2 linked regions of the Homo sapiens genome follow. The protein of the gene in region 1 purifies or fractionates together with the protein of each later gene. This does not show direct contact. Each region holds a gene or a part of one and is shown on either strand. Other genes may lie near its edges. The genes, in order: CLCN6 and SIDT2.

Region 1 (3,812 bases):
CCTGACCTCAGGTGATACTGCTTCGGTCTCCCAGAGTGCTGGGATTACAGGTATGAGCCACTATACCTGGCCATTTTCTTCTGTTTCGTAAGTATTTGTTTTCTTGTACATAGTTGAGAAGTTTGCAGGAATTAGTATAAGATACTCCATATTGTTCTGTCACCTTGCACTCCCTCACTGAACCCTGTTACATCATCCTGACTGTATCACCAGGACTGAGACTGTCTCACAGCCTTCATCCTACTTCTAGGAGCTCACCAAGGCTTCCCCATTGACACCCAGGCTCCCTCACCCCTTCTACTAAATTGTACTTACATTTGTAATGTGCTTGCCTTCAGCTGATATGCATATTCATGTAAATTTTTGTTGTTCTTGTCATTGTTTGAGACAGAGTCTCACTCTGTCGCCCAGGCTGGAATGCAGTGGTACGGTCTTGGATCACTGCGACCTCCACCCCCGCCTCTGAGTTCAAGCTGTTCTCCTACCTCAGCCTCCCAAGTAGCTGGGACTACATGCATACACCACCATGCCTGGCTAAGTTTTGTATTTTTAGTAGAGATGGGGTTTCACCATGTTGGTCAGGCTGGTCTTGAACTCCTGACCTCAGGTGATCCACCCACCTCAGCCTCCCAAAGTACTGGGATTACAAGCGTGAGCCACCACGCGTGGCCATATTCATGTACATTTCATGGGTTAATGTTCTTTTGATATTGGTCATTGATATTTCTCAACCATCTTCAAGAATGAGCTTCTTGAGAGCACTTGCTTTGTGTAAGAACAAATTCAGGCACTTAAACAGAAAAGTCTGGATTTTATTTATTCAATAAATAAATCAACTTGACACAAAAAGTATAATAAAGAGGGGAGTGAGTGGGACAGGTTAAAATAGTTGATTTAGTGGAATCTCATTTTTGTTATTTAAAACACGTGTTAAAAGCATGTGTATAAAAACGTGGGTAAGGATGTAGAAGGATATTTAGTAAGGTATTAATAGTCATATTTTAATGAATGGAGTTATAGGGTTTTCTCTACCTTGATAGTCAGTCAACTAGAAAACCCTTCTGTTGAATATCTTTCTAAAAAGTGCCCCTTCTTCCTGTCTCAGGAAGAGTTCATTGCACATATTTGACTCTTTATTTGATAAATTTAGGGTCTTACAAAATGTTAGAATCCCATTTTGACATCCATTCTCATTATAGGTGGTTTGAAAAATGGTAACTTTCTGTGAGATGTGCCATTGCAAACAGGAATGTTTTCATGCAGGTCACACAGTCTATTTATATTGTACCTTTGAATTAGAAAGAGGCACACTCAGAACGTAAGACTTAGAATTAAAGGCCTCCCCCACTGGCCATAGCAGCACCCCTAGCTCACAACCAGTTGAAGGTGGTTTTGGTGTGAACACTAAGATGCCCCTTCCTGGTTGAATTGGGGCTGGTTCAGCCCCCACCTCCCTCCCGGCCAGGTGCCATTTTGCTCGTAACCCCCTGTAACAGCCCTGCAAGACACAGATAACATTTTATTTTTTTAAAAAGTTGTTAGTCCCCTAAACCAAAGAGCAACATATACTGCAGAAATAAAAAGTTAGTCATAGCAAAGGAGAAGTAACAGTATCTGGTTTTAATAATAGCTCATATATTCCATTGGTACATATTTACAAAGGGCCAAACTCAACTAATTTATTTAAAAAAAAAAGAAGCGTGGCACAGTGGCTCACGCCTATATGCTCAGCACTTTGGGAGGCCAAGGCAGGAGGATCGCTTAAAGCCAGGAGTTCAAGACCATCCTGGGCAATAAAGTGAGACTTTGTTCCTACAAAAAAATTTGTTCAAAATTAGCAGGGGGCCGGGTGCAGTGGCCCACACCTGTTACCCCCACACTTTAGGAGGCTGAGGCAGGTGGATCACTTGAGCCCAGGACTTCATACCAGCCTGGGCAACATGGCGAGACTCCATCTCAACAACAAATACGAAAAAATTAACGAGGTGTGGTGGCTAACCTGTGGTCCCCCCTACTCAGGAGATCGAAGCAGGTGAATTGCTTGAGCCCAGGAGACGGAGGTTGCAGAGAGCTGTGATCACGCCACTGCACTCCAGCCTGGGTGACAGAGCGAGACCCTGACAAAAAAAAAAGGGATTCTGGTGTTCTAGCGTTGCGGTTGTTTCTAAATGCCCTTCTTAGCAGTTTTATTGCACTATAATTGGCATACTATTCAGTTCACCCATGTAGAGTGTACAATTCAATGGGGTTTTAAAAATTAGTATATTCACAGAGTTGTACAACCATTCCTACAGTCAATTTTTTTTTTTTTTTGAGACGGAGTTTCGCTCTTGTTGCCCAGGCAAGAGTGCAATGTTGTGATCTCAGCTCACTGCAACCTCTGCCTCCCGGGTTCAAGTGATTCTCCTGCCTCAGCCTCCCAAGTAGCTGGGATTACAGGCGTCTGCCACCACACCCGGCTAATTTTGTATTTTTAGTAGAGACGAGGCTTCTCCATGTTGGTCAGGCTGGTCTTGAACTCCTGGCCTCGGGTGATCCGCCCGCCTTGGCCTCCCAAAGTGCTGGGATTACAGACGTGAGCCACTGCGCCCAGCTAATTCCTACAGTCAATTTTAGAATATTTTCATCACCTGAGAGGAAACCCTGCACTCATTAGCAGCCACTGCCTGTTCTCCTTGCCCCTGACTCCAGGCAACCAGTGATCTCCTTTCTGTCTATTTGCCTATTCTAGATATCTAAAAACCTTCTAAATGTTTACGGAACCATATCATTATTAGATGGAACCATCAATGAAGTACTTGACCAGTAATTTCCATACATATTTTGGATGAAGGCAAGGGTATTGTTTCTCCTCTGCTCTCAGGCACCACTCGCGGAACACTGCTAACACCGATATGTGGAGGTTGTTTCCCCACTACTCAGGAGGCTGAGGTGGGAGGATGGCTTAAGCCCAGGAGTTGGAGGTTGCAGTGAACCGAGATTATGCCACTGCACTCCATGCTGGGTGACAGAGAAAGACCCCATCTCAAAAAAAAAAAGTAGTAGGTTGTCACCTGCATTTCTCAGCAGCTGGCAGTGAATTGAAGGTTCACAGGACTCCCTCCTTGAGTTTGGTTAACTTGCTAGAGCGGGTCAGAAAACACAGAAATGCTACTTACATTTGCTAGTTTATTAATAAAGGATATCATAAAGGATACAGAAGAACAGCCAGATGGAGAGATTCAAGGAACGTGGGAGGGGGCACGGAGCTTTCATGCCCTCTCCAGGCACGCTACCCTCCAGGAACCTCCAAACGGTTCAGCTGTCTGGAAGCTCTCTGAACCTTGTCATTTTGGAGTTTTATGGAAGCTTTTTTATGCAGTCATGATTGATTACATCACCAGCCCTTGGTGATCAGCTTAACCTTCAGCTTCGGTCTCCTCCCTGGAGGGATGGGTGTCCCACCCCGCTAATCCTGCCTTGGTCTTTCTGGTGACCAGCCCCTTTTCTGAAGCCATCTAAGGGCCCCCAGCCGCCACTCATCTCATTAGCAAACAAAAGATACCACGGCTCAAAAAAAAAAAAAGACAAAGTATGTTTGTGTGTGTGTGTGTGTGTGTGTGTGTGTGTGTGTGTGTGTGTGTGTATTGTTGGGGCTCAGAAAATGATACCTGGAAATATGGTGCTTTGATATGCTGAACTCTCCACCCTCACACTTTGTCTCTCCCAAAGCACAGGATGAGGCTCTTCTCTGCCGTTCCCTTATCTACCTAGAAACTGGACCTACCAGAGAGGAACACAGTTGTCTTTGATCCCTTTCCTGAAATGTCATT
Region 2 (3,812 bases), on another chromosome or scaffold:
CTGGTCTTGAACTCTTGACCTCAGGTGATCCGCCCACCTTGGCCTCCCAGAGTGTGGGATTACAGGCATGAGCCACCGTGCCCAGCCAGAGGGTGCCTCTCTCTCTCTCTCTTTTTTTTTTTTTTTTCCGAGATGGAGTCTTGCTCTGTTGCCCAGGCTGGAGTGCAGTGGCGCAATCTCGGCTTACTGCAAGCTCCACCTCCCAGGTTCACGCCATTCTCCTGCCTCAGCCTACCGAGTAGCTGGGACTACAGGTGCCCGCCACCACGCCCGGCTAATTTTTTGTATTTTTAGTAGAGAAGGAGTTTCACCGTGTTAGCCAGGATGGTCTCAATCTCCTGACCTCGTGATCCACCTGCCCCGGCTCCCAAAGTGCTGAGATTACAGGCGTGAGCCACCGCGCCCGGCCAGGGTGCCTCTCTTACATGGATTATTTATTCAGCAAATATTTATGGAGCACCTCCTATATGCCAGGTGGTATGCTAAGGCAGCAGTCCTTGGTGGGGGCGGGGTCCTGTCTAGAGGAACAGGAGGCAGTTAAGAGCTGTGGTGAGCAAGGAACAGGTCACTGTGGAAATACAGGACAGAGAAAGCTTCCTAGAGGACACAGTCCCTGAGCTGTGGTTTGAGGGTTAAGTCAAGGTGGAATTTTTGAGAGGCCAGGCACGGTGGCTCACGCCTATAATCCCAGAACTTTGGGAGGCTGAGGCAGGGAAATTGCTTGAAGCCAGGAATTCAAGACCAGCCTGAGCAACATAGCGAGACCCAATCTCTATAAAAAATAAAAAAATGAGCCAGGCGTGGTGGCACACATCTGTAGTCCCAGCTACTCAGGAGGCTGAGGTGGAAGGATGGAGCCTAGGAGTTGGAGGCTGCAGTGAGCTATGATCGTGCCACTGCACTCCAGCATGGGTAACAGAGTGAGCCCGTCTCAAAAAAAAAAAAAAAAAAAAAAAAGTAGAAGAGAAAGTTCTAGCCCAGGGAGCAACATGAGCAAAAATAGGAGTGTGTCAGAGTTTGGTGTATTAGAGGAACTGCCAGTTGTTCATACTGGCTAGGCAGGGCCTTACATTTGAGGGGAGAAGGGTGAGAGATTGAGCTGGGTGGAGGAGGACATGAAGGCCTTTGGGTGCCATGATGGGAGGTGGTGGAAGGTTTTGACCTGTCCACCTTCCTGTTTCCTCCTTGAAGCTGAGGCATACGTCAGTGGGATGCTCTTTTGCCTGGGTATATTTCTCTCCTTTTACCTGCTGACCGTCCTCCTGGCCTGCTGGGAGAACTGGAGGTAAAGTGGAACTGCTGGGCCTCCCCTGGTCTGGGTGGTTTGGGCAGGTGTGTGGGGCAGATCACCTGGCAGGATCTGAGCCAGCCTAGGGTAATCTACACCATCCATAGCAGATGATGGTGGGGCTGTTAGAGTCTGTGGCCCATGAGCCTCTCTAGAAACCATCCCCTCCCCTCAACCTTCTTCCCAAGCAGGGAGATCCCATGTTGCTCCCCAGCCTGTGAGGAACCCTGGGACAAAGGGTGGAGGACAGGGTCATAGCGATGAGAGTGGAGCAGAGAGGTAGAAGGAAAGTCAGCCCCATACAGAGTGATCCTTGTCCTGTCCCATCTGGGTGGCCTGTGGGTTCTGTCCATGCAGGCAGAAGAAGAAGACCCTGCTGGTGGCCATTGACCGAGCCTGCCCAGAAAGCGGTACCTCCAGGGGGCCTGGGTGGGGCGGGCACAGTGTGCTTTGTGTTTTGGGGGGTGGTGGTGGATGGTTCCCTAGGGGGTTGGAGGAGGAAGGGCTGGGGGTTTCTGGATGTTCAGATGGGGGTAACACTCCACAGATGGGAATGAGGCTGGGATATGATGTCCATGCATCCCTAACATGCACACCTCAGAGGCTGAGGTGTTGCTTGGTTTATTCCATGTCTAGCGATGGTGTCTGCCTGCCTTGGGCAGTGTGGCCCACGGTCTCTGGGATTATTAACCTTTCCTTCTCTCTCTCTTCCACCCCTCCCTCTCTTTCTGTCCTCCCTCCTGCGTGGGACCTTCTCTCTTAGCTTCTCTCCTTGGTAAGCTCCAGGTGCTGTGGGCAGAGGAGCTGGAGTCCAGAGTAGGGGAGGGAGGGTGCAGCACAGGGCTGTCTGGAGGGCTCGTGGGCGGGCCAGTGTTGTCTTTGTTGCTGGTAACTTAGATGTGCCTGTTCTTGAACTTTCTCTCTCCTTAGGGAAGACAAAGGGTGGTGCTGTTTCCATGGGAGAGGCAGGCAGGGGGCTGGGGCGGGTGGTGGTGGCAGCAGTGGGGTGTGTTTGCCTGGATAGGTGCTGCTTCTCGTCTGCTGGCATGGCCTCCCTGTGGCTGTCTTCTCTGGACCTTTCTTTGTTCTTCTCCCTGGCTCTAGGCCTCTCTCTTCGTCCAGTGCTAACAGACCTTGACTTCTCATTGCAGGTCACCCTCGAGTCCTGGCTGATTCTTTTCCTGGCAGTTCCCCTTATGAGGGTTACAACTATGGCTCCTTTGGTACGTGTCAAAGCCAGCACCGTGCTTGCTGGGGACATGACCTTGTCTCCTTAGGCCACCACCTCCGAGGCGGTAAAGTGGGAGCCACCTCCTCCAGCCCCCACACCCTCTGCAGATGCTCAGAGCCCCTTTCCCTGCGGCCTCTCCTTCCTGCCTCACCACTGATCGTTCCCCACAGAGAATGTTTCTGGATCTACCGATGGTCTGGTTGACAGCGCTGGCACTGGGGACCTCTCTTACGGTTACCAGGGTGAGTGGGCCAGGCTGGGAGGGGCGGTGTGGTGCAGGACGGTGTTGTCTGGGTAAAATGTCACGGTGGGCGGTTGCCTCTTCTGCCAGATGCTGGAACCTGGGAAGGGCCTGCTGTCTTCCTAACCCCTCTCTTCCCTCATCCCCTCCTCCTTGGCCCCAGTTCCCTGGTAACTTTCCCTTTCCTTTGAAGGGCACGACCAGTTCAAGCGGCGCCTCCCCTCTGGCCAGATGCGGCAGCTGTGCATTGCCATGGGTAGACCTGGGGTGGGGGTAGGGCTGTTTTGCCAATCAGTGCCTGCCGGCTCCGGTTGACTGCCGGCTGTGGGGCCAGAAAGATTCTATGTGCATGGCTTCCCCATGTAATTCCAGTAATTGCCCGCTCTTGTGTCTTCTGAGATAGCAGCAGAGCACAGGCTCCTTTGGCTGGCGGGCTGGCGCCTCCGCTCTCTCCAGGCTGGACAATCTAGTTTATCGTCTGCGTTGCCAGCGCCCTCACTCCCTGGCCTGCTTGGGGAGGGCTCACAGGCATGGGGGTCACATTCTGGCCTCTGGATAAAGGAGAAATGCTCTTTCTGCACCCCAGGCCCACTGGGTCTTTAACCCAGTGGCAGCCAAGGCAGTGTCTTCTCAGAACCCACAGGGCTGGGCACCCTTGAATCAGCATGACTTGCCGAGTTCAATCCTGTTGTTTGTGTCTGCTGCCTGGGGTCTGCCTTGTGTCCTGGCCTGGGAAGCCCTAGCCCATGAGGGGTGCCAGGAACAGAGCAAAGCTAGAGCGGCCCCTGTGTGGTGGCCTCTTCTAGAGTCTACCATCATCCCCCAGGACTTAGGAGCACCTGATGTCTCCTCCCAGCTCCTGAGCCCACTTCCACCCCAACTCTGAGGCCCAGCCCACAATTTGCCTCTTCCCTACTGCCTAATAATTGTTACAATTGCCTCAGATGGGCGAGGGCCACTGTGGGTTTTGTGTCCACCGGTGCAACCCCTCCCTCCCTGCCCTTTCCAGGCCGCTCCTTTGAACCTGTAGGTACTCGGCCCCGAGTGGACTC

What was found.
Region 2: the proteins of CLCN6 (region 1) and SIDT2 fractionate together in Homo sapiens (co-fractionation; one large-scale study listed by BioGRID). This does not show direct contact.

The regions. Positions count from the first base shown.
Region 1 is NC_000001.11:11,809,087-11,812,898, forward strand, and holds part of CLCN6 (H(+)/Cl(-) exchange transporter 6), read left to right. Parts: intron 1-3,812. UniProt on the Homo sapiens protein: Voltage-gated channel mediating the exchange of chloride ions against protons. Functions as antiporter and contributes to the acidification of the late endosome lumen.
Region 2 is NC_000011.10:117,184,939-117,188,750, forward strand, and holds part of SIDT2 (SID1 transmembrane family member 2 precursor), read left to right. Parts: intron 1-1,191; coding exon 1,192-1,285; intron 1,286-1,645; coding exon 1,646-1,698; intron 1,699-2,439; coding exon 2,440-2,511; intron 2,512-2,689; coding exon 2,690-2,761; intron 2,762-3,769; coding exon 3,770-3,812.